Linked DNA regions of Homo sapiens. The protein of the gene in region 2 interacts with the protein of the main gene of each other region in a pairwise test. Each region holds a gene or a part of one and is shown on either strand. Other genes may lie near its edges. The genes, in order: NRBP2, TSC22D4, MYLIP and NRBP1.

Region 1 (7,797 bases), on a different chromosome or scaffold from region 2:
CCTCACAGGAGGGAGAGGCTTGGGAAGACTCTGAGGTGACAACCATGGAGCCCCAGTAGATCTGCAAGGTGGAAGAGGAGGAGGCAGTGAGCAGCGAACCTGCAGTTGGCATCACAAGGCATCGCACAGGGGGCCAGGCACAGCGGCTCACGCCTGCACTCCCAGCTACTCAGGAGGCTGACGCAGGAGGATCCCTGGAGCCCAGCAGTTCAAGATGAGCTTGGGCAATATAGCAAGACTGGCTCTACAAAAAGTTTTAAAAAATAGCTGGGTGCAGTGGCATGTGCCTATAGTCCCAGTTATTCAGGAGGCTGAGGTGGGAGGATCCCTTGAGCCCAGGAATTTGAGGCTGCCGTGAGCTGTGATTACACCACTGCACTCCAGGTTAACAGAGTGAGACCCTGTCTCTGAAAAAAATAAAAAATAAAAAAAAAGCCAATTCACAGATTAGGCTCAGAGGGCAGGTGGATGGCTCAATGGCTAAGAGCAGCCCTAGAGAACTTCCAATAAATTGAAATGGCCTGGCAGCATCAAGGGGTGGAGAAGCTCAGAGGCCGAGCAGAAGGGAGGGTACGCCCCCGCCCTGGGGCACAGCCTGAGTGAGGCCAGGGAGGGTGTGCCGCAGCGGCCACCACTTCTGTGCGTGGGCAGGCAGTAGGACGACCCACTCTGTGCATGGGAATAAATGCTGGGACGCATCCCTGCACGCGAACACATAGCTGTTGTCACGTTACTGTTCTTACCACGGGGGTCATGCTGGAGCAGCACCAGAGATGGAGGAGTAGCGTAAAACAGCACAAACAGATTCGCTCACTGTGCTGGAGGCTGGAAGTGCAAAATCAAGGTATCGGTAGGGCTGATGCTTCCGGAGGCTCCGAGGGAGAATCCATCCCAGGACTCTCTCCTCACCACTCATGGCCCTGGCAGTCCCAAGTAGGGTCCAGCCCCACAGGGACGGTGGGTCTCTCCCCGTGTGCAGAGACGAGAGAGTGTAGAAATAAAGACACAAGACAGAGATAAAAGAAAAGGCAGCTGGGCCCGGGGGACCACTACCACCAAGTCGCGGAGACCGGTAGTGGCCCCGAATGCCAGGCTGCACTGATATTTATTGGATACAAGACAAAGGGGCAGGATAAGGAGAGTGAGCCATCTCCAATGATAGGTAAGGCCACGTGGGTCATGTGTCCACTGGACAGGGGGCCCTTCCCTGCCTGGCAGCCGAGGCAGAGAGAGAGAGGAGACAGAGAGAAAGACAGCCTACGCCATTATTTCTGCATATCAGAGACTTTTAGTACTTTCACTAATTTGCTACTGCTATCTAGAAGGCAGAGCCAGGTGTACAGGATGGAACATGAAGGCGGACTAGGAGTGTGACCGCTGAAGCACAGCATCACAGGGAGACGGTTAGGCCTCCGGATAACTGCAGGCGAGCCTGACTAATGTCAGGCCCTCCACAAGAGGTGGAGGAGTAGAGTCTTCTTTAAACTCCACCGGGGCAAGGGAGACTCCCTTTCCCGGTCTGCTAAGTAGCAGGTGTTTTTCCTTGACACTGCGCCTACCGCTAGACCAAGGTCCACTTGGCAACAGGCATCTTCCCAGACGCTGGCGTTACCGCTAGACCAAGGAGCCCTCTGGTGGCCCTGTCTGGGCATAACAGAGGGCTCGCACTCTTGTCTTCTGGTTACTCCTCACTATGTCCCCTTAGCTCCTATCTCTGTATGGCCTGGTTTTTCCTAGGCTATGATTATAGAGTGAGGATTATTATAATATTGGAATAAAGAGTAATTGCTACAAACTAATGATTAATGATATTCATATATAATCATATCTAAGATCTATATCAGTACAACTATTCTTATTTTATATATTTTATTATACTGGAACAGCTCGTGTCCTCGAGTCCCAGGCACGCCTTGACCTGTGGGTACATCCCTCCAACACTGGCCTCCATGTTCATGTGACTGTCTACCTTATTTCTCTGCACCCCAAGTATCCCTTTTCTTTCTCTGATAAGGACATCAAACATTGGATTTAGGGCCCACCCCAGCATCTCAAGATCCTAAACTTATTTACATCTGCAAAGACCATTTTTTTTTTTTCAAATAAGGCTGTGCTCCTAGGTACTGGGGATCAGGATGTAGACTTTTGGGGGACACTATGTGACCTACCACAGAACATGTGTGTCTGGTTATGGGGGCGGAGAAAGGGGAGGAAATTCATTGAGATTCTTCTGCTCAAGGCTTACCTCCTTAGGGGCTTCTCTGGACCACACCCGCCAAAACGCACCCCTGCCCACCCACAGATCCATTCAACAAGTGTTTGCTGAGGGCCTGCTGTGTGCCGGGTACCGTCCTCGCACCAGAGAAAGAGCAGGGACAACGAGCAGACACTCCTGCCCTGCGGGAGCTCGAATCGCAACAGGGACACAGACAGTGAAGAAGAGAGATGAGAAAAACCCAGATGCAAGTCAGGTGGGGTGAATACTCCGGGAAAAGTCAAGTCAAGCAGGCGAAAGGGTGTGGGGACTGTGATGTCAGGATTCGTGGTCAGGACAGGCCTCTCAGGAAGTGACCTCAGAGGATGTTTGGGAAGGGCGTTCCGGGCAAAGGTATAACCAGGGCAGAGACCCTGAGGGGAAGTGCCTGTCATGTCCGATGGCACAGGGCCGTGTACTTGGGGTGGGCTCAGCTGAAGAAGGCAGCTGACGTGAGGTAGGGTAATGGGACCAATTACTGGGCCTTCATGTTTAGGCCCTCATACCAAGTGAGAAGGGACCACTGGGGGGGCTCCCCAAAACCACCCTCAAGTTCAATGGTTCACTAGAAGGACTCACAGAACTCGGAAAGGGTACTATTTATTACAGCAATGGATGCGTTAAAATCAGCAGTGGCAAGGACTCACAGAACAGAACCCAGGACAGACCAGCACGGGTCTGCAGGTGTCCCCACCCACTGCAGGCATGGGGACAGTGCTCAACCTCCCAGCACTGAGGTGTGACAATGAGCACAGCATGTCAGCAGCCAGGGAAGCCCTCCGTACCTCAGTGTCCAGGGTTTTTATTGGGTTGGTCACACAGGCATGGCTGACCTCCCAGGTGGCTGACTTTGGCCTCCAGCCCCTGCAGAGGTCAGGCTGATGCCACATGGCCCAAGGTCCCCCCGTAGACCATATTGTTAGCACAGACCAGGGGTGTCCAATCTGTGGGCTTTCCTGGCACACATTGGAAGAATTGTCCTGGGCAATACCCTTAAATAAAATACACTTAACACTAACAACAGCTGATGAGCTTTAAAAAAAATCTCAATAAGAAAGTTTATGAATTTGTGTTGGGCCATATTCAAAGCTGTCCTTGGCCGAATGCACCCTCTGGGCTGCGGGTTGGACAAGCTTAGCATAGAATCTGGTGTGGCCGAGGTAAACACAGACATTCAAATCAGGCAGAACATTCCAAGGGCTTAGAGGGTGTCTCCCAGGAGCTGGTCAGGGCCAGTTTCAGGGTGGAGGATTTGAACACCCCAAACCTTTACTGCAGAGGGCCTCAGCAGGATCACCTGGCATTGGTGGAAACCACACACAAGGTGCCTGGTGACCAAGGCTGGTCAGAAAAGAGAGACCACAGGGGACGCAGCAGGGCCAGATGCACCTCTGCCAAAGAAAGAAAGAGGCGTCCCAAAGGGCCAGTGCATGGAGCTGCGCGGAGGGGAGGAGCGGAGTTCCAATTTGGGCTCCAGAGAGAGAAGGTAAAGGATGAGGACCCGCCGTGAAGGAGGGAGGAGACCACAGGAAGGCCGTGGGGGCTGTGGGCTGAAGGGGGTTTTAGGTGAGAATCGGGGACAGCCCCGGTGGTCGGCGTGGCTGGAGGGTGTGCTTAGAGCGGCCTCCGGAGGGAGAGGTCGTGTGAGCCGGGTGGGCTCCCCCCTCATGGTTCCACTGTCCCATGGGAGCCAGCCGCGGAAAGGAAATGCGCGTTTGAGGAGAAAAGAGAAAATCGCCATCCTGGAAAGTGAGAAGATGGGCTTGTGGGCGGGAGGAGGCACTGGTGGGCGGGCCAGGGAGAGATTCGTGGTCACCGATCAAAGTCAGCCTGGGTCAGCCTGCTGGTGGGCCTTTCCCCCGCCCTCGGTGCCCCTTCGACCTGTCCCTTGGGGGTCGGCCGGGGAATGAGTGCGTGGCCAGGAGAGCGGGTCCCGCTTTCGAGCCCGCGGGGTCTTCTGCAGCTGGAGGGTGCCGTGGGCTTGGGGGCCCCCAGATGCCCCGGGTCTTCCCCCAGATCCTAGGGGAGCAACCGCGAGAGAAGTGGGCGCTCCGGGCTCCAGGTGTCCGCAGGGCGGGGCCTCCGAGGGGGCGGGGATTTGGGGGCGGTTCCTCTGCGCGGGGCGGGGCCTCATAGGGGCGGGGCTTCGAGGAGGTGAGGCGGGGCCTGGGGTGGGGCTTCGCGGAGGACCCTGGGAACGGGCGGGGGCGGGGACTAAAACGGGGCGGGGATTCGCGGGGGTGGGGCGGGTCCTGGGGCGGGGCTTCGCGAAGGAGGCTTGGAGGACGAGGAGGGGACAGGGCCTGGGGAGGGGCTTCGCGGAGCAGGCCTGGGAGACGAGGAGGAAACAGGGACTGGGGCGGGGCTTCGCGGGGCGGGGCCTCCGGGGGGGCGGGGCCTGGGCGCGGCCCGGGCTCGGCAGCTCTCGGGGAAGCTCTGCTCTGGCTCCGGCAGGCACAGGCGGCTCGGGAGGTGCGCGCCGGCTCCGCCCCCGGGCCCCGCCCGTCCGCCGCGCGCCCGCGCCTCCCAATTCCCAGAGCCGGGGCTGGGGCTCTAGGCTGCCGCGGCGGCTCTAGGCTGGGCTGCTGGGCGCGAGGCCAGGGCGGGCCGGGAGAGGCTGCGCCGGCGGCGGATCGCGCAGAGGGCGGTGGCCTGGGCTGGCCGAACCATGGCGGCCCCGGAGCCGGCGCCGAGGCGGGCCCGGGAACGGGAGCGGGAGCGGGAGGACGAGAGCGAGGACGAGAGCGACATCCTGGAGGAAAGCCCGTGTGGTCGCTGGCAAAAGCGACGGGAGCAGGTGGGCGCGGGGGTTGGGGCACGGGGTGACACCGCCCTCCCAGAGCGGGAGGGGCCTGGAGGCTGCGCGGGGCGTGGGGGCGCTGGGAGAGCGCGGCGGCTGGAAACCTCTCCGCGGCCCCTCGCGGCCCGCGAATCAGCCACCCCTGGACCCCTTTGGCCTGGCGCTCGCCCTGGGACTCCCTGAGGGCCAGTCTCCTCCCAGGACCACCTCCCCATGCCTCTGGACTCAGCCGCTAGCTTCCTGGGGATCCCCCTCGACCCCCTGAAACCTGCTCCAAATCCCCTTAGCCCAGCCCTTGGATAGGAGCCCTTGGCTCCTGGGGGCAGCTACCCTCCAAGCCCCACCTTCCCGCAGAGTGGCTCAGGGCCTGCAGCCCACGCTTGGGCCCACTGGAAAGGTGTGGACAGGGACCAAATCCTCACCCACAACCCTGACACACACCAGGGCACACATAACCCTTTATTCACCCCCAGGTAAACCAAGGGAACATGCCAGGGCTTCAGAGCACCTTCCTAGCCATGGACACGGAGGAGGGGGTAGAGGTGGTGTGGAACGAGCTCCACTTCGGAGACAGGAAGGCCTTCGCGGCGCACGAGGTGAGACCGCTGCCCCCTCCTCATCCTGCTTGGGTGACCACCTGCTGACCACCCAGCGACCACCCTCCCTCCCCAGGAGAAGATCCAGACCGTGTTCGAGCAGCTGGTGCTGGTGGACCACCCGAACATCGTGAAGTTGCACAAGTACTGGCTGGATACCTCTGAGGCCTGCGCGAGGGTGAGCACGGGCAAGGCCCCGGGCAGGCAGAGACCACAGCTAGGTGGGGCGGGCATGGGGACGAACCCGCAGCTGGTGGAAATCCTGAGCTCGCACCGTGCAGGTCATCTTCATCACAGAGTACGTGTCATCAGGCAGCCTCAAGCAATTCCTCAAAAAGACCAAGAAGAACCACAAGGCCATGAACGCCCGGGTATGGGGAGCGGGCTGGGGCAGCCACGGGGACAGGACGGGGTTGGGGCAGCCTCGGGGACTGGGATGGTGAGGGGGTGCCCGGCGGCCTCGGACAGGGGCTGGGCGAGGATGCGGGGCGGGCTCCGCAGGCCCAGCCGCCTCTCCTGCGCCCACCCGACCGACGGAGTCGTGCGTCCGCCGCCAGGCCTGGAAGCGCTGGTGCACGCAGATCCTGTCTGCGCTCAGGTGAGGGCCTGGGCTGGCCTGGGCGCGGCGCCACCGAGCCCCCATCTCTCCAGAGCCTCCTGACCGGCTCCTCCTACTCTCCCCTCCCCAACGTCTGCAGCTTCCTGCACGCCTGCAGCCCCCCAATCATCCACGGGAACCTGACCAGCGACACCATCTTCATTCAGCACAACGGCCTCATCAAGATCGGCTCCGGTGCTGGCGGGGCAGGGCTGGGTGGGGGAACGGGGCAGGGGAAGGTGCCTGGAGCCAAGGGCAGAGGAGTTCTGATGCCCCAGCAGCTAACTCCACTCTTTCTCCCGCCCCTTGGCAGTGTGGCACCGAATCTTCTCCAATGGTAAGTGCGGACTTTGGGGGGACGGGGTCCTGGAGAGGTCCCCGCCCGCTCAGCTCTGCGCCCTCCCACAGCACTTCCAGATGATCTCCGAAGCCCCATCCGCGCTGAGCGAGAGGAACTTCGGAACCTGCACTTCTTCCCCCCAGAGTATGGAGGTGAGTGGTGCTGGGTCCGGGTGCCCCGTGCCTACCCTGCGCTTCTCTCCTACGTGTCCTGTGCTCTCTTCTGTTCAGAGGTGGCCGATGGGACCGCTGTGGACATCTTCTCCTTTGGGATGTGTGCGCTGGAGGTACTGCCCCCGCCCTCCACCTTGTGCTCTGCCCTCCTCCTAACTGTGCCCTGCCTGGCTCACCTGTGTGGTCCCTTCCCCATGCCTGACCTGGCTCTGTGCCCCAGATGGCTGTACTGGAAATCCAGACCAATGGGGACACCCGGGTCACAGAGGAGGCCATTGCTCGCGCCAGGCACTCGCTGAGTGACCCCAACATGCGGGTAAGCAGCTTGCCCTGCCCCTCCCCAGCTGGCTCACCGTGCTCAGCTAGGGCTAGCAAGGTGCTCCAGGCAGACCTGGGAGAACATCACAGTTTGTGCAGTTGAGGGGTATACCAGCTGACTGCACCCCTCCCAAAGAGGACCTCAGTGGGAGCACATACTGGTTCCAGGCCTGAAGGCCCTAAGGGGTCAGCACATTCTAAGGACAAGAAGGCAAGAGAGACCCTCCCTCTGTGGCTGCCATCACCATGCCCGTTTTATAAAGAAACCAAGGTTCAGAGGAGATGAGTCCTTTGCCCAAGGCTTTAGAGTGAGTGGTGGAGCCAACATCTGCACCTGGGTCTGCTTCACTCCAAGTCCTTGACTTTAAGCTTCCAGGAGGTGATGAGGCTCCAGCTTGTGGGGGGACATGGTGGGTGCCAAGCAGGCAAAAAGAGGTATGGGATGGAAGCTGCATCCACAGCCCCCTCTGCTCGGAGTCTAGACTTAACTCCATGGCCTCAGGAGATGGGGGTGCCTGGTCGGGGCTGGTGGCGAGCTGGAGCCGGGCTGGGCACGGATGTGGACAGAGTGGGGACCCATCAAGGTCGTCTCCAGTGTTGGGCCCGAGCTGAGCCGATCAAAAGGCCATGGGTAGGAGGCTTGCAGGTGTGACTTTAGGATCATGGCTTCTCCCCACGATTTTTTGGGGGTCGAGGGAAGCAGAGCATGGTGCTCCAA
Region 2 (7,021 bases):
CTCTTGCATTCAGCACCCACCCCAGGGGAGAAGATGCTGTTTCTCTTCCTGTCCTGTCCCCAGACTCTTCCAAAGCAAACCCCCTTGGCCTCCAGCTTCCCTGCTCTCTGTCCTTAAGCCTGGCCTGAGCTTCTCTTGGGGCCACAGACCCTGCCTCTCTCTCTCAGTGCCCCCTACTCCCCAGCCTTCCCCCACCTCCTGACGGTCTTCTGTTTGCACGCATCTGTTTTGCTATTTCCTTGCCCAAAAGTCTGTCTCCCTTCCACGTCCCCTCATGCCTCTTCTCCCTCTTAACAGAGGGGAGTGGTGGAGAAGGGCCAGGGGACACCACCTGGGCCCCCTTCCTCTGCTCTGTCCCTTAACCACCCTGGACTCTCTGTTCTTGGCTTTTCTGAGAAGCTGGGGCCTCCCGGGGCCTCACAGAGGCGTCTTGTCATGTTCCTGTCGCCCCCGCCCTTTTTGCTGCTGCCCCCAGAGCCTGTTGGGCTATGCAGGTCCACGCCCAGGCTCCGCCTCCCCCCAGCTCCACAACCAGCTCCCCCCCCAACCCTAGGGCAGAGCGCAGGAGCAGAATTCCACCTGAGTCCGAGAAGTTTGAGAGGGGAAGCGAGAGTGGGGGGTGGGTGAGGGGATGGAGGAGCAGTTTCTGAGGATCCATTCATTCTACAAATAGCTACTGAGCAAACTGACCTTCTAGCAGGGGAGAGACACAATAAATACTTTAATTTCAGATAATGTTAGGTGCTATAAAAAAATGAAATAGTTCAGTAAACCAGTGAATGATGGGGAAATGCCTCTCTAAGAGGTGACATTGGAGTCATTTTAAGAAGGCAGCCTGGGTGCAGTGGTTCACGCCTGTAATCCCAGCATTTTGGGAGGCCGAGGCGGGCAGATCACTTGAGGTCAGGAGTTCAAGACCAGCCTGGCCAACATGGTGAAACCCTGTCGTCTCTACTAAAAATAAAAAAATTAGCCAGGTGTGATGGCAGGTGCCGGTAGTCCCGGCTACTCAGGAGGCTGAGGCAGGAGAATCAGTTTAACCTGGAAGGCATAGGTTACAGTGAGCCAAGATCACGTCACTGCACTCCAGCATGGGCGACAGAGCGAGACTCCAGTAAAGGCACAGGCTGGGAGTGGTGGCTCATTCTTCCAGCACTTTGGGAGGCTGAGGCAGGAGGATCACTTGAGCCCAGGAGTTTGAGACCAGCCGGGACAACATCTTGAGACCCTGTGTTAACCAAAAATAAAAAATTAGCCAGTTATGATGGTGCATGCCTGTAGTCCCAGCTACTCGGGTGGCTGAGGCTGGAGGATCGCTTAAGCTCAGGAATTCAAGGCTGCAGTGAGCCATGATTGTGCCACTTCACTCCAGCCTGGGTGACAGAGTGAGACTGTCTCAAAAAAATAAAAATAAAACATAAAAGAAGGCAGACACGCTGCGTAGCCTCTGATTAGGGGTCCCGGCCCAGTGGGAGCTGGGGCATTGGAGTCTATTCTGGGTTCCTCCGTCAGTCACCCCCTCCTCCCACTTGGGAGACTCTCTCTAATGTCCTATACACCACTCCTCCCATTCCTTAGGTTGACCCACTTCTTGCTTCTAGTACCTGCCTAATGCCTTCTCCAGAGCTGGAGGAGGGAAGGACTGCGGGGACAGGACTCCTGGGTCCTCGAAAGAGAGTGGGGAGGTGGAGAGGGAGGAAGGCTAATAGGCAAGTTTTAAGGCAGCTGGTTCCTTTCTTTTCTCTTTTCATGTGATGGTTCCTACCTCTCCGCCTCCAGGTGCCCCCACTTGACTCTCGCCCCAGCTCCCCAGCCCTCTACTTCACCCACGATGCCAGCCTGGTTCACAAATCTCCAGACCCCTTCGGAGCAGTAGCAGCTCAGAAGTTCAGCCTGGCCCACTCCATGTTGGCCATCAGTGGTCACCTAGACAGCGACGATGATAGGTAGGTGGGCTTCGTGGGGTGGTGGGGCGTGGGGTTCAGGTTCCCCGCCCAGCACCCGGGGTAGCTGTAAGAAAGTGCCTGGTAGGCATCCTTCCCCCAGGTTGAACTTGGAGAGGACCTCTTAGAGAAACCTGGCCTGGGCATAGCCACTGCACACAGTTGATTTCGGACCCACTCCCTCTCTGTGGAGAGGGCTGGGTGGGACTCCCTGGCTCAGAACTGTCAGGTCACAGACTTTTTTAGAGTCTGAAGGGAGTCATTGTTGTCAGATTCCAGAGCTCTTGCAGATTTAGAGATCATCTGGCCAACCCAGGAACCCACTGGCAAATGCATGCTCTAGACAGAATAGCAAATCAGGCCGGGGCACAGTGGCTCCCGCCTGTACTCATAGTGCTTTGGGAGGCCCAGGCAGGAAAATTGCTTGAGGCCAGGAGTTCAAGACCAAGCCCTGGCAATGTAGCGAGACCTCATCTCTAAAAAGAAAAAGAAAGAAAGAAAAAAAAAATATATATATATATACATAAAGGAAGTAGGCTGGGCATGGTGGCTCATGCCTGTAATCCCAGCACTTTAGGAGGCTGAAGCGGGCAGATCACCTGAGGTCAGGAGTTCGAGGCCAGCCTTGCCAACACGGTGAAACCCTGTCTGTACTAAAAATACAAAAATTAGCCAGGCGTGGTGGTACGTGCCTGTAATCCCAGCTACTCAGGAGGCTGAGGCAGGAGAATCACTTGAACCCAGGAGGCAGAGGGTGCAGTGAGCCGAGATCGCACCACTGCACTCCAGCGTGGGTGACAGAGCGAGACTCCGCCTCAAAAAAAAAACAACAAAAAAAACTGAAAAAGAATGGAAATCAGTTTCCTCCCAGTTCCATCTCCCTCTTTCTCTCCTAACAAAGGACTGGGACTCCCTAACAGCACCTGTGGAGCGTGACATCCTGATAGCCCACAGGGTCTACTTTAGGATCCTAAGATTTCTAGAACCGAGAAAGCAAGTCCCTAAGATGGGCCAGCTAGGAACAGAATCAGAGCTAGGAACGGCAAAGGGGCAGGGGCAGCACTGCAGAGAGCGACTTTCTGGGGTTCTCCCTTTAGGGGACAGTGCTCTGTTGGGTGGGTTTTCAGGGCCAGGTGTCACCATTCCTAAGAAAGCCAGCAAGCTGAAAAGGGAGGCCCAGAATCGTGAGTCAGAGATAGCCAGGCTGCCTGCTTCTCCCCGGGGACTGATAGGAACCGGGCAGAAGGGCTGGGGAGTCACCGCTTTTCTTTTGGAGGGAGAAGTGGGACTTCCCGTGGGAGGTTTTCAAGGGGAGGGACTTCCTGCTTGGAAGGAAATTGGGGGTGGGGCTTCGAGAGTGGGTGAGTGGGTGCCTGAGGGACCAATTCCAGATGGGAGTCGCTCCTTCCTGTCCTCCCCAGATCAGGGGCCACTCGCTGGGATCAGGGACTCAAGCCCACCACTGATAGGGTCCTGCGGCCTCAGGGAGGATAGGGACCTGGCAAAGGAGGTGGCCAGGAGCTGGTGGGACGGAGGGCAAGAGTGCCAGTGCTGGGTGGGGCTGGGCGGGGCTGGGCAGGACTGGGTGGCTTCTGCACGCCCCATTCCCACTCTCAGGAATGTGCGAGGTGTGAGGTCGGCCAGGGCTGGGAGAGTCACCTGCCGCCATCACTGCTATTCTCAGCGTTTCCCGCCCTCTCCCTCTCCCACTTGGGAGGTTCCCCGGCAAGAGGACTCCCCGTCCCTCCCCCACCCCTGTTGAGTTCACAGCCCAGCCTCCTGCTGTCTCTGTCTTAGAGGATTCAACCTCCTGAGGCCTCCGTCTTTCCCCTGTACCCTCCCTCCCTGCCTCCCTCCATCCCACCCCCTCCCTGCACACCCCAATCTGACCGGTCCGGTTCCCAGCCTCCACTTCACCCTGCTGTGCTCCAAGGCTCTTGGGGATCTGTCCCAGCCCAGCCCCTCAAGCCCCACCCTGCCAGGCCAGCGGGTTTGGGTTGGGCCACCCCCTGCCCCCTAGGAATGGGACATGTAGGCCCCACCTCTCCTGTCTGGTGTGCACAGGGCTGGCAGGACAGGATGCCAGTGGCCTGGGACCTCTCTCTTAAGAGGGAAGGTGGGCTGAGATGTTCAGTGCCTGGATCACAGGGAGGGAGTTGGGGACGCCTGACCAGTCCCTGAATCTGGGGATGGGCGAACAGAGGGTGCAGGTGAATCTAGAATGCTCACGTGCCCCAGGGCTGGAAATCCTTGTCCCCTCCCGGCAGGCAGGAGGTAATTAAGGTGTGAAGAAGTGGATGGAAGGAATGGGGGTGGGGGCAGTGACCGGCCTGGGGGATCCAGGCATTATACAGAATGGATCCCAGGGACTTGGGAAAGAAAAGGTACATTTATTTATCCAGTGCCTCCCTTGGGTCCGGTACTGCCTTCTCCCTTCTAATCCTAAAAAGCAGTTCCATTCTCCCACTTGCCAGATGAAGTATCTGAGACTCAGAGAAGGAGGTTTTTTTTTGTTTTGTTTTTGTTTTTTTCTTTTTTAGATGGAGTCTTGCTCTGTTTCCCAAGCTGGAATGCAGTGGCACGATCTTGGCTCACTGCAACCTCTGCCTCCCAGGTTTAAGCGATTCTCCTGGCTCAGCCTCCCCAGTAGCTGGGACTACAGGTGCATGCCACCATGCCCGGCTAATTTTTGTATTTTTAGTAGAAACGGGGTTTCACCATGTTGGCCAGGCTGATCTCAAACTCCTGACCTCAGGTGATCCACCCACCTCGACCTCCCAAAGTGCTGGGATTACAAGCATGAGCCACCTCACCCGGCCAGGAGGGTTTTAGAAACTTGCCCAAGGGCCACCCAGCTAGTTTAAGTGGCTGGACTGCAGCTGGAGCCTGGGTCCAACTCCAAAGCCACACCTTCTCCACTGTCCTACTGGGATGCCTGTGTCCCAGGCAAAGAGGTGGCGGCAATGGTCTACAATATCCTTTCTCTCTAGGACAGTCAGGTACAGCTCTCCCAAGCAGGGCAGGGAGCCAGCCCCCCTTCCCCCTCCCCGACCTCCCCAGCCCCGCCCCAAAGACACCACAGATCCGGGACAGCATAGAGACAGGGCAGCTGGATGACACTTTCTTGGCCCCAGACCTAGGCCCTGGGGGATCCCCTGAACCCACTGGAGAGTGTGCAGGGCTGGCCCCTGTCCCCAAGATCCCAGGCTCCCCATTTCTCCCAGGTGTCCTGCTTTTTATCTCATCTTCATGTTGAGGCCGTTTTATTTGACCCTCAAAGAGGAAGACCAGCTTCTAGGGCTGTCCCCGCCCCAGGACCAAGAGTCCTGCAGGGCTAAGTCTCCCACTGTGCATGTCACACACTGCACAACTAACTCCAGGGGGTGCCGCTCATATTTGAAATCACAGTCAATGCTTGAAGTCACGACAGTTTTCCAGAAGATGGCATTAAGGATCTCGAAGAAGGGGGCATTTTCTAATCCATACAAACTTGCTTTTGGGCTTGTGGTGGAGGTCGATCCTGTCTCAGCAGCCCCTACTTTCCTCCCCCGGACCCTGTCAAAGAATTCTAGCACAGTGCCCACAACCCCTCGCTTTGGGGTCCTAAAGGGAAGGGCCTGCATTGCCAGAGCCCTGGTCCCTTGAAGTGTGTGTTAGAATGTTCCAATAGAGGCCTGGCACAGTGACTCACACCTGTAATCCCAGGACTGAGATGGGAGGCTGAGGTGGGTGGATCATGAGGTCAGGAGTTCAAGACCAGCCTGGCCAACATGGTGAAACCCCATTTTGCCGGAGGCTCCCCGGCAAAAATACAAAAATTAGCTGGGCATGGTGGCTCATGCCTGTAATCTCAGCTACTCTGGAGGCTGAGGCAGGAGAATCACTTGAACCCAGAGGTGGAGGTTCCAATGAGGGAAAATCCCGCCATTGCACTCCAGCCTGGGCAACAAGAGCAAAAACTCCCAGGCGCTAGACAAACAGAAGACAGTCACCTGTCGGCTAACAAACGTTTATTGCTGTATTATTCCTTTATCTCTGGTGAGAATGAACACCTTACTTGACATCTTTACCCCTGAGTCTCTGCCCAGCAGGGCCCATGTTCCTATCCCTGTGTATCCAACCCCTTTGGTCTCTGTGAGTGTTTAATGGGGTGGTGGCAGTATTGGGCTTTCTGTGGTGGCTCCATCTCCACCCAGGTGTTGCTGATTGAAATAGCTCGAAAATTACTTTGACCCTCCTGCTGGCAGACCCACCTCCACCCTTCAACTTCTCCTCTCCCACCACCCCAAGAGTCCCAGATGCCCTTCCCCCACCCACCCCATCCTGCTCGCTCAGGCCTAGTCACCTCCTTAGTTGCTCCACCTGTCAGCGCCTTCTGCACCCAGAGCTGGGATGAGAAATGGAAAATTCCCAGCTCCCTTGTGCTCCCTTCCTGGCTGCAGGACCTTATCCAGGGGTCACCTTGAATTGAGTGCTGATCCCCCTGCAGGAAAGCAAGTCTGAGCTGACAGCCAGGAGGGAGGGCTTACAAGGGAGTCCAGGGATGTGGGCTGCAGCGCCTTGAGGCCCCTGCTCCAAGGGGGGCCCAGCTGGGGGCTGGAGGGCAGGACTGGGGATCCCGCCACAGCGCCAGAGTGCAGGGGTGCAAGGGTGGGTCGGGAGCCTCAGGGCAAGAGCCTGGGGCCTGAGGGGTGGGAGAGGGAGCCTTGGAGGATGAGGTCAGCACAAGGGCCTGCGCAGGTGGGGCCTGAGAGTGGGGCTTGAGGGAGAGCCAGGTTCTGGGACCAGGAGCCCAACGTCGTGGAGCCAGCCTGGAGCCCGGCCCTGGGGGCTGTTGAGCCAGGCCTGAGTCGCCCTCTGGTGGCCACTTCCCAGACTGCAGCCAGACCCTGTCACCCCAGACTCCCAGCCCTCTTCCAAGCCCTGTTGCTCCTCTTCCCAGTGTCCCTTCTCCAAGCTCACTTCCCTTCCTCTCCTCAAACCCTCGCTTCCTCTGAGACCCCAGACCCAGGTCCCAGGCCCATAGGCGATTTTTTTTTTTTTTTTTTTAAGACAGAGTTTTGCTCTTGTTGTCCAGG
Region 3 (7,021 bases), on a different chromosome or scaffold from region 2:
TCTTCTTACTATCTAATAAAGCAGGAACTAGTCTCTAACTTTACACCTGAAAAATAAGTTAAAAGCCACTTTTGCCTGTAATCCCAGCACTTTGGGAGGCCGAGGCAGGCAGATCATGAGGTCAGGAGATTGAGACCATCCTGGCTAACACGGTGAAACCCCGTCTCTAATAAAAATACAAAAATTAGACAGGCATGGTCTAATGTAGCTATCGGGAGGCCGAGGCAGGAGAATCGCTTGAACCCAGGAGGCGGAGCTTGCAGTGAGCCCAGATCGTGCCATAGCACTCCAGCCTGGGCGACAGAGCAAGACTCCATCTCAAAAAAAAAAAAAAAGGCCACTTTTACATAAGCAGTAATTAAACTAAGAAGACTTCGTTTGTGGCAATATTCTTCAAGTCTTTCAGAGCGTAATTTCTTCTTTAACGAAAGCATAGATGCAGATTTTAGTTTCCTAACAGCACACCTCCACCCCAGTCGAATACAGAGATGGGTACATTCACCAAGATGAAGTTTATCAAATGGTCATCTAAGAAGCCTTTTGAGGCCTGCAACAGTGTAGTAAACCACGGCTTGCTGAGAATGCTGGATCTCAGTCCTCAGATAGCTATTTTACAGCAAATTATTTTCATGGTGATTCCTTTGCCCCAGTGGGGGCTCCTTTCTCAGTTTAGCAGTATGTCAGAAATACTTTAAAGATTAGCAGATGTTTGGGTTAATAAAAACCATCTTTATCTTCTTTGAGGCTATTACACATTCTTACTATGATTTCTTTACACGGGCTTTGAAAAAAAGAAAAAACTGCAGTATTTGGCAGAGTTTCATCATTTTAAATATTTCTTTATCATTATAGAATGCACAAAACATTGAATTTAAATACTTCTTAGTGAAAATAAGATTAATGGCTCTTGTCAGCCAGACATTGTAGACTCTCAGTATAGCACCTCCTTAGATTTGTAGCCTCACTGCCTCCTCCTTAGTCGATTCTTACCTTGCTCATGTTCCTCTACCTGGAATGTCAGACACAGATATATTATTAAACAGAAACAGTGCTGAGGACATCGCACCTGGCCAAAGTTACAATTCATTTGTTAATGGGACGAATAATGTGGCAATTAGCCTTGTTTGAGAGGTTATGACAAGTCATCGAAGGAAGGTTAAAACTTCACATTTGCCAGGGACACTTGTTATAACTGAGGCCAATCTGTCTACAGCAGTTTAGGTGCTCTTCAGAGTTTTGGGCAGTGTGACCAGTATCTGAATTTTACAGGAGTTTTTAAGTGTGACATAACCTTTTAGTAAATGTAGAATATAGTATTGTATACAACTAGGATGGGCTTAAACAGGATGAAACTAAGGTTGGAAGGTAAACTAATCACACATAATATGCAGTTTTATGTACATTTTTGGAGCTCTCTGATGTTCGAGGCACTTAAGAAGTCATACATAATATACATGTTATGTCAAATACTGTACCAGAGGAATAGAGGATTTGCATGTGATACAGACCAAAGGGTATCCAAGCAAGGCGACAGAAAGAATGGCCCTCAGGACAGAGGGAGCAGCAAGACCAGAGACACCAGAGCATGAACATGCTTCCTAGATTTCCCAGGGAGAGGAATCGTTCCCTATCCTGGGGCATAGCAGCTGCAGGGAATGACAGGAGACGTGGCTGGAAAGCTGGGGCCAGATGGCGGAGACTCCTCAGCTCCACGTTAACAACGTGCTCCCTTGGCAAGCCGTACAGATCCTTTGAAGGATTTTGAGCAGAGAAATGACAAGTTTATACTAGAAACAAGCAGCATGGAAGGTAGGCTGCCTGCATGGAGTCTGGAGGAGGAGAGCAGCGCAGAGAATAGTGTAAATTCTTCCTGCAAGTAGTATTGAGGAGGTACAAATGGGAGGATAGAACTGGATTTAAATAGTTTTCAGAGAGAAGAAAGTCAAGTGAAATAGGACAAAGAGTCCAAAGTCAGTCCGTGGTCTCCATTCGGAGAAAAAGGGCTTGGGAAAGAATATATGGAGTTTGGTTTTGAATGAGCCAAAATTGAGGTACCGAAGAACATCCAGGTGGTGAAGCCTATAGGAGATTGGACATTTTTCATGTGATTCTTAGGACAGAAGCTGGCACTGAGACTAGAGATTGGGGTATCATTTGAATAAAGGTGAGAATTTTGTCTTTATGTATAGAGTTCCTTAAGATTCTATCAGAATCCATGTCAAGATACAATTTTTCTGATTAAAATAATTTCTTTTAAAACACTATAATGCAGAAACTTATGTGTAATTATTTTATGTTTTGTAACCTTAATGTTACCGAACTTGTGTTAAATAAGTTTATCTTGTTTGGGTCACAACTTTTATTCCAGAGAAACGCAGTTCTTATTTTGATTTTGCCTTAATACTGATGATTTTTTTTTGAAGTTCTTTAATGTTAAGCATTTTCAGTGTGACTTTTAAAATTGCTTTCCTTAAAAGTGACTGTGAAATTGCTAAGTAGGCTGAGATTGATGTCAGGTTATCCCCAAGCATAACCTCACTCTCACCTTGCTTTGCAGGCATATCTTTTTCTTGCACATCAAGGAGGCCCTCTTGGCAGGCCACCTCTTGTGTTCCCCAGAGCAGGCAGTGGAACTCAGTGCCCTCCTGGCCCAGACCAAGTTTGGAGACTACAACCAGAACACTGCCAAGTATAACTATGAGGAGCTCTGTGCCAAGGAGCTCTCCTCTGCCACCTTGAACAGGTGAGGCTGTTGAATATAGTATTGTTTACAACTAGAATAGGCTTAAACAGGATGAAACTAAGGTTGGAAGGTAAACTAATCACACATAATATGCAGTTTTATGTACATTTTTGAGCTCTCTGATGTTCGAGGCACTTAAGAAGTCATACATAATATACATGTTATGTCAAATACTGTACCAGAGGAATAGAGGATTTGCATGTGATACAGACCAAAGGGTATCCAAGCAAGGGGACAGAAAGAATGGCCATCAGGACAGAGGGAGCAGCAAGACCAGAGACACCAGAGCATGAACATGGCAGCATCAGGGCTACTGCATATATTCATAGAGCTATCAAATGTATAAGCATTTCCAAAAGAAGATGAATCTGTGGTACATACACATAATTTGTGAAGTTAAGACTGGGCCATTGCCCAATTTAACCAAATATTTTCAAAAAATTTGTTAGCCTTTTATTTGAAAAATATGTAAACACAATATGAAATGCTATATAAAATGGGAATTTTTTAAATCTGTGCCTTTAAGTACAAATCTCCTAAAATAAAAAATCTATTATGTATATTGGTGTTTTCTTCATCCCAGCAAGAATTAAACCAGGAGATCTAACATAGGCATTTTAGTTATCTATTCCTGCATAACAAGTTACCCCAAAACTTAGTGACATAAAACAACAAAAATTGTCTCACAGTTCTGTAGGTCAGGAATCTGGCCATGTCTTGGCTGGGTCCTCTGGCTCATGAGACTGTAGTCAAGCTGCAGGTAGAACTCTGTCTCATCTGAAGGCTCGACTGAGGGTGGCCTCCATGCCAGGTTGACTCCTGTGGTTTGTTGGCCTACCTCCTTCCCTGGCCACAGGGGCCTCAGGGGTCAACTTTATACTTATAAACTATATGTGGACAAATGCATGAGACTTTCCAATATGTAAATTTGACTTATGTATATTTTTAGAGACTTTCCATAATTCTTCCAATTCATCACCCATCCAGCATCCCCAAAGTGTTTTTACCAAGTATTTAATAGTTGAGATCCCAGTGTCTTAGACGTTTTTTATAGTAAGTTCGCTAAATACATGAAACATCAGTAATACATAAGTTTTAAGTTGTTGTGATTCATCAGTGTTAGTATATTTCACTCGTGAAGACTACATAGGTTTATCTCTAAAGCTAATATCTGTATACTTAATTCTCTGTCCTCTTGGTGTCCTCCAGCATTGTTGCAAAACATAAGGAGTTGGAGGGGACCAGCCAGGCTTCAGCTGAATACCAAGTTTTGCAGATTGTGTCGGCAATGGAAAACTATGGCATAGAATGGCATTCTGTGCGGGATAGCGAAGGGCAGAAACTGCTCATTGGGGTTGGACCTGAAGGAATCTCAATTTGTAAAGATGACTTTAGCCCAATTAATAGGTAAGCCAAGACTTAACTTTTTTTGACCTAAGCATGTGTATACATCTGTAGCTGTCAATGTAATAGAAAATAGGAAGGGATTTACTCGACAGTCAGCTCTTAGGAATGAAAGATTTCATTTTGGTATGTACATTAATTTTATTCAGGCCTAAATAACCATTTTAAATGTTATTCAAGGTATACAATGTGGCAGAGTTAACGTTTTCCAAATAACCCATTCACTGCCATAAAAAACTTGTTTTCAGCTCTAGACATGCATGTGCGCACACCCAGCACTTGCTCCCATACTTCCCTCCACATATGCCCAACTGCTTTTCACTGTATCTTTACAATAAGGCAGCATTATGGTGATGTGATAACCCCAGAGGAAGCGTCTGATTTTTCTGCTAGGTCATGAGCAAATGGGGATCCCACAAAGGCACACACATGGTGAAGAATCACTCCTTCTAGATCTGCTTTCTTTTCTCTTCCTGTCTCTTAGGATAGCTTATCCTGTGGTGCAGATGGCCACCCAGTCAGGAAAGAATGTATATTTGACGGTCACCAAGGAATCTGGGAACAGCATCGTGCTCTTGTTTAAAATGATCAGCACCAGGGCGGCCAGCGGGCTCTACCGAGCGATAACAGAGACGCACGCATTCTACAGGCACGTATCTCGTGTGCTTGGTCACCTCAGCACCACAGCTCTCAGGTTTTTAGGTGACAACCAGGTTTCTACGGTTCCTTGGATTGTTGTGTCAATGAGTCTAGTACAGAATTTAAGAAATTCTGAACATTTTGTTTCCGTAGTAGCAGTGGAGTCCTTATTAATGTAGTCTTGTTTTACCCACAGAAGGTGCATGTGTGTGAGCTGCACAAACACATTCTCTGCTTACCTCCTACCGTATTCTCTTATGCCATTAATCTAGACACAAAGTGTGTTAGGAGATTTCTATGCCTATTTAATCAATACAACAACCCTAAGGGGTTATTATTACCCTAATGTTAAAGATGAGGGAACTGGGAGGATAATTATTTACTTAGTCTAGGACTCAGCTTCAAAGCCAAGTTTGATTACCCTAAAGGTAACCCTGAGGGACTGGGCCTGCTCCACTGCTCAGGAGAAGGATAGCACAGATCATCTTTTCTTTCTGGCAGAGCTGCTATCCTGAGTCGTCACTGTGTATGGAAGGATTTTTTAATAGCAATATTGATTCCCTCATTTCAGAGGGTACTTTAAAGCCAAGTTGTGATTGGACTCACGTATTTGGACAATTAAAGCTAAGAAATTTAAGTCGTAGACAACTTTAAACTTTTTTATTTTAAAATAGATACACAAATTGTGAAACAGGATGGGAAATTTTTAGACATTTCTAACCTAAAAGCCAAGACTTCAGGCAGATGCCCTTTTTCTTCCATAAGCAACTTCACTCAGTAGCGTCTGTCCTGGGGAGGAGGTACGTGCTCACTGCCCTCTGTATTTACTGCTTTACGGAAGCCATAATGTCAGGAGATGTTAGAGAAACAGAGGTGTAATCACTGAGAATATTTACCAGACGTAAAACTGGAAGGACTTACTTTCATACATGCAGACGAGACTATGAAACATCTGCTGACATTTCTGTTCTTATTGACAACAGCGAATAAGGGTGCTGCCAGGCTCTTTGGTGTTAAAGTAGATGTTCAATCTTGCCTTGCAGGTGTGACACAGTGACCAGCGCCGTGATGATGCAGTATAGCCGTGACTTGAAGGGCCACTTGGCATCTCTGTTTCTGAATGAAAACATTAACCTTGGCAAGAAATATGTCTTTGATATTAAAAGAACATCAAAGGAGGTGTATGACCATGCCAGGAGGGCTCTGTACAATGCTGGCGTTGTGGACCTCGTTTCAAGAAACAACCAGAGCCCTTCACACTCGCCTCTGAAGTCCTCAGAAAGCAGCATGAACTGCAGCAGCTGCGAGGGCCTCAGCTGCCAGCAGACCCGGGTGCTGCAGGAGAAGCTACGCAAGCTGAAGGAAGCCATGCTGTGCATGGTGTGCTGCGAGGAGGAGATCAACTCCACCTTCTGTCCCTGTGGCCACACTGTGTGCTGTGAGAGCTGCGCCGCCCAGCTACAGGTAGGGGAGTCAGCTGCCCACTTTTGCCTGCAGCCTCACCTATCCCTCCTCTTAACGGGGAGTAGGAGCCAGGTACTGGCTCGCTAATGCACAGACGGGGAATGCCCATCTTCACCCGGAAAGGGTCTTTGTATTTGGTGACCTAAAAGGCATTGCCCTTTAGAAACATTTTAGATTAGCATACTATTTTCAACAACATAATTACTCCAAATTATGCAGTGTTTTCAAGTTCTGAAAATGAGGCTGAGATTCCTGGGTAACATATCTAGTTAGCGGCTTACCTGAGGACAAGAATCCAGGCCTCCTGAGGCCTGGCCCAGGGCTGCTTCCTCTATTTCAAGTTGCCTCCCTTTTTCTGACACTTAGGAGGATGGTCTTTATTACTTAAGATATTTGGGAAAGAATACTTCTCAATTATCCATGGATGGGTTGTTGACTCTGTGATATTGGTGATTAATTTCCTTTTATGATTGCAAATGCCTCAAGGGCATATGGGTTGGCTGTTATTTATTAGCAAGTCAAACTAATTTTAATATTAACACGAAAAAGAGAACTCACATATAGTTTTCTTCCTTTCTTGCATGAAGAAGAATTTTAAATTTCCTCTTACAAGTTTTTTCAATTTGTTTTTATTTCTCAGATGTGTTTGCCAAATGTCACTGTGGTTTTATGTAAAACTGGTTCTAGATAATACTTAGTCCTTCAGAAGCTGCTAATTTCAGAGCTAATAAGACCAAATGACCCCTGTGTCCTTTCCCCAGAAGCAGTCAT
Region 4 (7,021 bases), on a different chromosome or scaffold from region 2:
AGTCATGTGCCCCAAGGGTAGCCTCACCATGGACTAGTGGGCTTGTTCTGTGTAGAGAAGGGATGGATAGTGAATGCCAAGGTTAGTTCTAGCTGGATAAATTAGCCAAGGGTTTCAGCTGGATAAGTTGGCTGAGGGTGCTACAGGTCTAGCCTTAAGGCTGTCTCACTGAAACATTTTGGAGTCTGGAGTCATCTGTTCTGAATAGCGCCCACATAGTTTATATTTTTTTATTTTTTGAGACAGAGTCTCACTCTGTTGCCCAAGCTGGAGTGCAGTGGCACGATCTCAGCTCACTGCAACCTCTGCCTCCCGGGTTCAAGTGATTCTCCTGCCTCAGCCTCCTGAGTAGCTGGGACTACAGGTGCGTGCCACCACACCCAGCTAATTTTTTTATTTTTAGTAGAGACAGGGTTTTGCCATGTTGGTCAGGCTGGTCTCGAACTCCTGACCTCAGGTAATCCACCTACCTCGGCCTCCCAAAGTGTTGGGATTAAAGGCGTGAGCCACTGTGCCCGTCCACACATAGCTTAATTCTTGAGCACAGTAAAAATAGGGTGTACTTGGGGATTCAAAGGGAAGCCTATTGGATGAGTATTTGCCAAGAAGGAATGGAGCACCTGATTTTGCTGGTGATTTGAACCTTACTCTAAGTGGGATTAGACTGCCATAAATCTTGTGTTTGTCATTCCTGGGAGGGTCATCTTCAACTAAGATAGCTCCCCTTTTCTAGACTAGAGTTAGGAGAATAGTTAATGTTTCAGTATTTAGGACTGATTCTGATTTTGGATTTAAAGGAAACAAAGGTGGTGTGTGTTTTCTATTTTTAATTTTTAAAAGTTTTGTGTAGAGACTGGGGTCTTTTTATGTTGTCCAGGCTGGTCTCAAATGCCTGGCCTGTTTTATTTTCTTTTGAATTTGCAGATAAGTATTAGGATTATTAAATCTTTTTTTTTGTTTGTTTGTTTTTTGTTGAGACAGGGTCTCCCTCTGTTGCCTAGCCAATGGCATGATCATAGCTCACTGCAGCCTCAAACTCCTGGGCAATCAAGTGATTCTCCCATCAGCCTCTCGGGTAGCTGGGACTATAGCTGTGTACCACCTTGCCCTGCTAATTTTTAAATTTTTTTGTAAAGATGGGGTCTCACTTTGTTGCCCAGGCTGGTCTCAAACACCTGGCCTCAAATGAACCTCTTGCCTCGGCTTCTCAAAGTGCTGGGATTACAGAGGTGAGCCACTGTGCTCAGCTGGATTACTAAATTTTTTTTTGAGATGGGGTCTTGCTCTGTCACCCAGGCTGGAGTGCAGTGGCGTGATCTCAGCTCACTGCAACCTCCACCTCCCTGGTTCAAAAAAATTCTCCTGCCTTAGTCTCCTGAGTAGCTAGGACTACAGGCACGCGTCACCACACCCAGCTAATTTTGTATTTTTAGTAGAGATGGGGTTTCACCATGTTGATCAGGCTGGTCTTGAACTCCTGACCTCAGGTGATCTGCCCACCTCAGCCTCCCAAAGTGCTGGGATTACAGGCATGAGCCACCACGTCCAGCCTGGATTACTAAATCTTTACAGATGTATCCTGACTTTCTCTGCCTTTTCCCTCTGTATTTGCCCCAACCAGTGCAGGCCTGAGTGTTCCTTCCAGCATGTCGGAGGGGGAGTCCCAGACAGTACTTAGCAGTGGCTCAGACCCAAAGGTAGAATCCTCATCTTCAGCTCCTGGCCTGACATCAGTGTCACCTCCTGTGACCTCCACAACCTCAGCTGCTTCCCCAGAGGAAGAAGAAGAAAGTGAAGATGAGTCTGAGATTTTGGAAGAGTCGCCCTGTGGGCGCTGGCAGAAGAGGCGAGAAGAGGTAAGGTTATGGTACAGTTACTCTTGGGTGAGTGAATTCTGGAAAGGTGAGAACTGGAAGAGCAAAGTCTTAAAAGAGGCCAACCAAACTTCAATAGGTTGGGGGCTAGGAGGAGATGATCATATGGAGTGTTAAAATGGAGGATTTGTGAGATAAGTTTAATTCTCTTTCATATGAATTTCTTCTCAGGTGAATCAACGGAATGTACCAGGTATTGACAGTGCATACCTGGCCATGGATACAGAGGAAGGTGTAGAGGTTGTGTGGAATGAGGTACAGTTCTCTGAACGCAAGAACTACAAGCTGCAGGAGGTAGGTGATGCTGAAAAGGTGAAGCCTGGGGAATGTTGGAACACTGATGTTAGAGAGGAATTGGTGTTGGGAAGCTGCCCGTGAGGAGAGTATGTTGGGGTTAGATCGTTTCTGGGGAGGGATAGGGAATGGCTTCTCAGGATTATTACAGTGATTTGTGACTCTGTTATTCCACTGTCTCCCTTGCTTTCAGGAAAAGGTTCGTGCTGTGTTTGATAATCTGATTCAATTGGAGCATCTTAACATTGTTAAGTTTCACAAATATTGGGCTGACATTAAAGAGAACAAGGCCAGGGTAAGAATTTTTTCCCCATATTTCCTGAACTTATTGCAAAGAGACTAGCTACATTTATTATTGTTCCTTTTACACTCAGAGATTAAAACAAGGTAGTTTTGAAACAGAACTGGAATCAGCTGCAATGGCGATAAGAGTAGGGCTTCAGTTGTCACCTATGCCTTTTGTGTGGCTATAGATTGGGCAGAAAATGAGTGAACTTTTGCTTCTTTCTTCCCATAACTTTCATTGCTTGTTTTCATTGCCCTATTTAGTCTAAGTAAGTAAAGCTAAGAACAAAAGGAGAGAAATTTTAACAAACCTTCAAATTTAAAATATGTTAACAAGGGAAGGGATCATTTCTACTATAAGGCCTTTTAGTAAGTGCTTTGCCTCCCCAGGTCATTTTTATCACAGAATACATGTCATCTGGGAGTCTGAAGCAATTTCTGAAGAAGACCAAAAAGAACCACAAGACGATGAATGAAAAGGTATAGAAGGAGAGCAGACAAAGTTTGAGGCTGGTTTTTGGGGGTGGTTTTAAAAAGGACTCTGTTAATAATGAAGCTGATCAGGAAGGGACGGAAGGAGCTAGTGGGAGAGAGTTAAGAGAGGGAATTACTGCTGACCCTTGGATCCAACTTTGTTCCAGGCATGGAAGCGTTGGTGCACACAAATCCTCTCTGCCCTAAGGTAAGTAGTACCTGGTTAGTTTCTTACCCATATTTCCTGATGTAGTTACTCCAAACAGATTTCAGGGCACTACTCTTCTGTTCTATTCTGCCTCTCCCCACTTTCTTTGAATCATATACTGTCAAGATTAGGGCCCCTACGGGTCTTTTAAAGGGTGCGTCCTAATGCCCTAACCACGACACTTATCTCCTACCTCTTTCTCCTAGTGCTTATCCAGCTATTTAAATCATCAGGCATAATGGAGATTCAGAGTGTGGGGATTATCTTTATGGTGACCAGCAGGAGACCTGGCCCTTGCTCCTCTTAACCCTTGGGTTCCCCCTGCCCTTAATTTCCCAGTGGCCCCTCTAACAGCCCAGTGCCCCCACAGCTACCTGCACTCCTGTGACCCCCCCATCATCCATGGGAACCTGACCTGTGACACCATCTTCATCCAGCACAACGGACTCATCAAGATTGGCTCTGGTGAGGGGAGGGAGAGGTTCTGGGCAGGGGAGCCTCGGGAATTTGGGAACCATGGGGGTAAGATGAAAGGAATGGGGGATAACAGAGCAAAATTCTGAGGTGTGGGCTGGTGAGAAGAGAAAGGACCTTGCTAGGAGTAATTAATAGGAGAGGCCAGTTAATTAGTGGAGAGGGGGTAGGATATATAATCTTACACCTTTTTGAAGGGAAAATTGGGGTTAATACAGAGATACTGATAAGAGGCTGGGAAAGGGCAAGAGATAGGTTTGAGGTTTGATTTGAGTCCTGGGGCCAGACCCTGCCAGAGGAGGTTCCAGGCTGTTCCTGCTGTGAGTGCTTTCGTTTGCTGTGTATTGTATGCAGTGTACAACATTTCTGTGTGCTGTGTCTGTGTGGTATTTGTGTGTCCATTTGTCTGGGGCTTGGCTGCTCCATCGCTCACAACTTTTCTCTGTTTTCCTCCCTCCCGCTTACGGGCTGCTCTGTTCCCAACAGTCTTTCATAGGATTTTTGCTAATGGTGAGAGCTCCCTCTGCCCCACTTGGGGCTCTGTTTGTGCTCCCTCTGCTCCCTTGGCGGCTGCCCAGTGCATGCAGTCGTGGGAGCAAACCCTCTTCCCCTATCTTCCCTGCCTAATTATGCCTGCTTAGCTTCTGCCCTGCCAGCCCTCCGCCTGCTTGCCCCTTCATAACCTGCTTGTTTCCTGTGGATTCTGCCTGGCTGGCCACTTACCTCCTGGATTCATGTTCTCCCTCATCATCAGGCTAGTTCCCAGATCATACTGTGCTCCCAGATTCTCTGTGACTTGTAGTCATTGTTTATGATCTGAGTGAGTCCAAATTGGGCCTGGTCCTGGTTCCTCGTTCAGCTCTGTGGCAGACAGTGTTGAGGAATAAGGGGGTAGAACAGGAGTCTAAAATGTTTTGGTGGATTAAAAGTGGAACAGATTCAAGGGTATTAGCTCAATTCTGAGCTGTTTTGAGTTTCACTCAGCAAAGGTGGGTAAGAAGGAGGCTACCTCCTGAGCTGTATGTTAATACTTCTTATCCTTATTTATCCAAGTTCCTGAGGTCTCCAATTGTCCCAGATTAGGAAGGGCTGCCTGTGTTTTTATGTTATTTGCAGGGTGGATGAAAAAACTAAAACCAAATATTTTCATGTGAGCAGGGATTAGAGGTACCTGGGATTTAGGGAAGGTGAACGCAGTACAAGTGAAAATTTTTCCTTAAACTTCATTGCTTCTAGACCAGCCTGAAGCCCCTGTGTATCTGTTAATTTAGTCTGGTGCTTTTGTTGCTCCTGATTTAGGGACATTAGATGAGAAGCAGTAGGCCTAAGAAAGGGGAGGTAGGTGGCATCCATGTGTGGTCTGTAGTTCAGGACAGGAAAGGGAATATGTTTGTGCCTGTTGAGGGTCATCAGAAAGGAGACTTCAGGAGAGAATTTGGCTTTTGGGGCCTCTCTCTGGAGTGAGACTATTCTTCATTGATGATGGTCAGATTGTGGGTGTCTCCCCTACTCCCAGTGGCTCCTGACACTATCAACAATCATGTGAAGACTTGTCGAGAAGAGCAGAAGAATCTACACTTCTTTGCACCAGAGTATGGAGGTGAGCCTTCCTGCTTTCTCTGCCCTGTCCTCATCCCCCTGCTTTTGCACCTTATAACTTGAGGTACAGAGGCAATATAACTGAAACTTCTAGGCCTTCTCTACCAGCATACAAAATATTTTTCTTTTCTTTTTTTTTTTTCCTAAGGCATTCCTGCCAACCCTAGCCCCCAATCCTCTGATTAACCAAAGCCTTCTCTGTTTTCCCTAGAAGTCACTAATGTGACAACAGCAGTGGACATCTACTCCTTTGGCATGTGTGCACTGGAGGTGAGGGGACTGGAGGGGAGGGGGGAAAGGGGTCAGATGAGAAGATGGAATTGGGAATGGAGGGAAGACAAGTAAGGCGCTGGCTTGGAGGGAGTGATTGTGGGAGCACTGAAGTTCTTAGGTGTCTACTTTTTTTTTTATTCTTCCTCACTGAAGATGGCAGTGCTGGAGATTCAGGGCAATGGAGAGTCCTCATATGTGCCACAGGAAGCCATCAGCAGTGCCATCCAGCTTCTAGAAGACCCATTACAGAGGGTAAGGATCTTCAGGATCACTCCCTCCTCAACTGACCTTCAAATGTCTTCTGGTTTTTCTTCCTTTGTACCCACTGGGTATATGCTCCTAAGAGCTAGGGAACATAACAGAAAGGACACGAAAAATCTATAAACATTTTCTTAGGAGGTGCCTACCATGTTTTTGCATAGAAACACACAGGTAAGGGGGTTAAGATGGATGATGCTGGGGTTAAAAGTTGTGTGTTGGAAGCCGGGCATGGTGGCTCACGCCTGTAATCCCAGCACTTTGGGAGGCCGAGGCGGGCGGATCACGAGGTCAGGGGATCGAGACCATCCTGGCTAACATGGTGAAACCCTGTCTCTACTAAAAATACAAAAAAAATTAGCCAGGCTTGGTGGCGGGAGCCTGTAGTCCCAGCTACTCAGGAGGCTGAGGCAGGAGAATGGCATGAACCCGGGAGGCAAAGCTTGCAGTGAGCTGAGATCGCGCCACTGCACTCCAGCCTGGGCGACACAGGTAGACTCCGTCTCAGAAAAAAAGAAAAAAAAAAAAGTTGTGTGTTGGCTGGGTGCAGTGGCTCACACCTGTAATCCCAGCACTTTGAGAGGCTGAGGCGGGTGGATCACTTGAGGTCAGGAGTTTGAGACCAGCCTGGCCAACATGGTGAAACCCTGTCTCTACTAAAAATACAAAAATTAGCTGGGCATGGTGGTGTGTGCCTGTAGTCTCACCTACTCGGGAGGCTGAGGCAAGCTTGAACCCGGGAGGCGGAGATTGCAGTGAGCTGAGATTGGGCCACTGCACTCCAGCTGGGGCAAGAGAGCGAGACTGTCTCAAAAAAAAAAAAAAAGTATGTTAATTTGAATGTGTCTACATGGAGGTAAATTAATTTGATGGTTACTTCAGGCCATTGCTGTATACTCTCAGACAGCCATTTTTATATTTTTAAGCACATCAGTCAATTTAAATTAAACCAGTTGTTTGGGATTTTATATTTATACAGTTTTAGTTAGGGACGGTGGCCTGAAATAATGAGCTAAGATTTAAAAGACATAAGGTTATGAATCAGTTGATAGACTATAGTAAGCAGAGCCTGGGCAGGAAGGTCCAAACAAGAACAGTTTGTAACTCATTAGATAAGTATAGTAGGGAACAGGAGAGAAAAGAAGACTAGTGGGAAGTCAGGAGGATAGTGTGGAGTAAGTTTCTACTTCAACATTGAGGTGGAGTATTCAAGTGAAAGATTAGGTATGTGACCTTGTTAGCCTTCAAGGTTAAAAGCAGGAAAGCAGGTTAATTGTCATGG

What was found.
Region 1: the proteins of TSC22D4 (region 2) and NRBP2 interact in binary tests that used the Homo sapiens proteins (3 or more experiments, as listed by UniProt).
Region 3: the proteins of TSC22D4 (region 2) and MYLIP interact in binary tests that used the Homo sapiens proteins (3 or more experiments, as listed by UniProt).
Region 4: the proteins of TSC22D4 (region 2) and NRBP1 interact in binary tests that used the Homo sapiens proteins (3 or more experiments, as listed by UniProt).

Annotation. Positions count from the first base shown.
Region 1 is NC_000008.11:143,837,960-143,845,756, reverse strand, and holds the start of NRBP2 (nuclear receptor-binding protein 2), read left to right. Parts: upstream 1-4,783; 5' UTR 4,784-4,922; coding exon 4,923-5,051; intron 5,052-5,527; coding exon 5,528-5,650; intron 5,651-5,726; coding exon 5,727-5,828; intron 5,829-5,931; coding exon 5,932-6,021; intron 6,022-6,207; coding exon 6,208-6,248; intron 6,249-6,348; coding exon 6,349-6,443; intron 6,444-6,561; coding exon 6,562-6,585; intron 6,586-6,656; coding exon 6,657-6,740; intron 6,741-6,818; coding exon 6,819-6,874; intron 6,875-6,981; coding exon 6,982-7,077; intron 7,078-7,797. UniProt on the Homo sapiens protein: May regulate apoptosis of neural progenitor cells during their differentiation.
Region 2 is NC_000007.14:100,469,199-100,476,219, reverse strand, and holds part of TSC22D4 (TSC22 domain family protein 4), read left to right. Parts: intron 1-1,779; coding exon 1,780-1,946; intron 1,947-7,021. Other genes in the region: TSC22D4-C7ORF61 (uncharacterized protein LOC122198330), read left to right, coding at 1,780-1,946.
Region 3 is NC_000006.12:16,139,068-16,146,088, forward strand, and holds part of MYLIP (E3 ubiquitin-protein ligase MYLIP), read left to right. Parts: intron 1-2,488; exon of another isoform or gene 2,489-2,557; coding exon 2,558-2,743; intron 2,744-3,952; coding exon 3,953-4,150; intron 4,151-4,631; coding exon 4,632-4,796; intron 4,797-5,829; coding exon 5,830-6,250; intron 6,251-7,021. UniProt on the Homo sapiens protein: E3 ubiquitin-protein ligase that mediates ubiquitination and subsequent proteasomal degradation of myosin regulatory light chain (MRLC), LDLR, VLDLR and LRP8. Activity depends on E2 enzymes of the UBE2D family.
Region 4 is NC_000002.12:27,431,628-27,438,648, forward strand, and holds part of NRBP1 (nuclear receptor-binding protein), read left to right. Parts: intron 1-1,621; exon of another isoform or gene 1,622-1,626; 5' UTR 1,627-1,646; coding exon 1,647-1,856; intron 1,857-2,045; coding exon 2,046-2,168; intron 2,169-2,361; coding exon 2,362-2,463; intron 2,464-2,843; coding exon 2,844-2,933; intron 2,934-3,094; coding exon 3,095-3,135; intron 3,136-3,505; coding exon 3,506-3,600; intron 3,601-4,095; coding exon of another isoform or gene 4,096-4,119; intron 4,120-5,125; coding exon 5,126-5,209; intron 5,210-5,419; coding exon 5,420-5,478; intron 5,479-5,634; coding exon 5,635-5,733; intron 5,734-7,021. UniProt on the Homo sapiens protein: Required for embryonic development. Plays a role in intestinal epithelial cell fate and proliferation, thereby involved in the architectural development of the intestine potentially via the regulation of Wnt-responsive genes.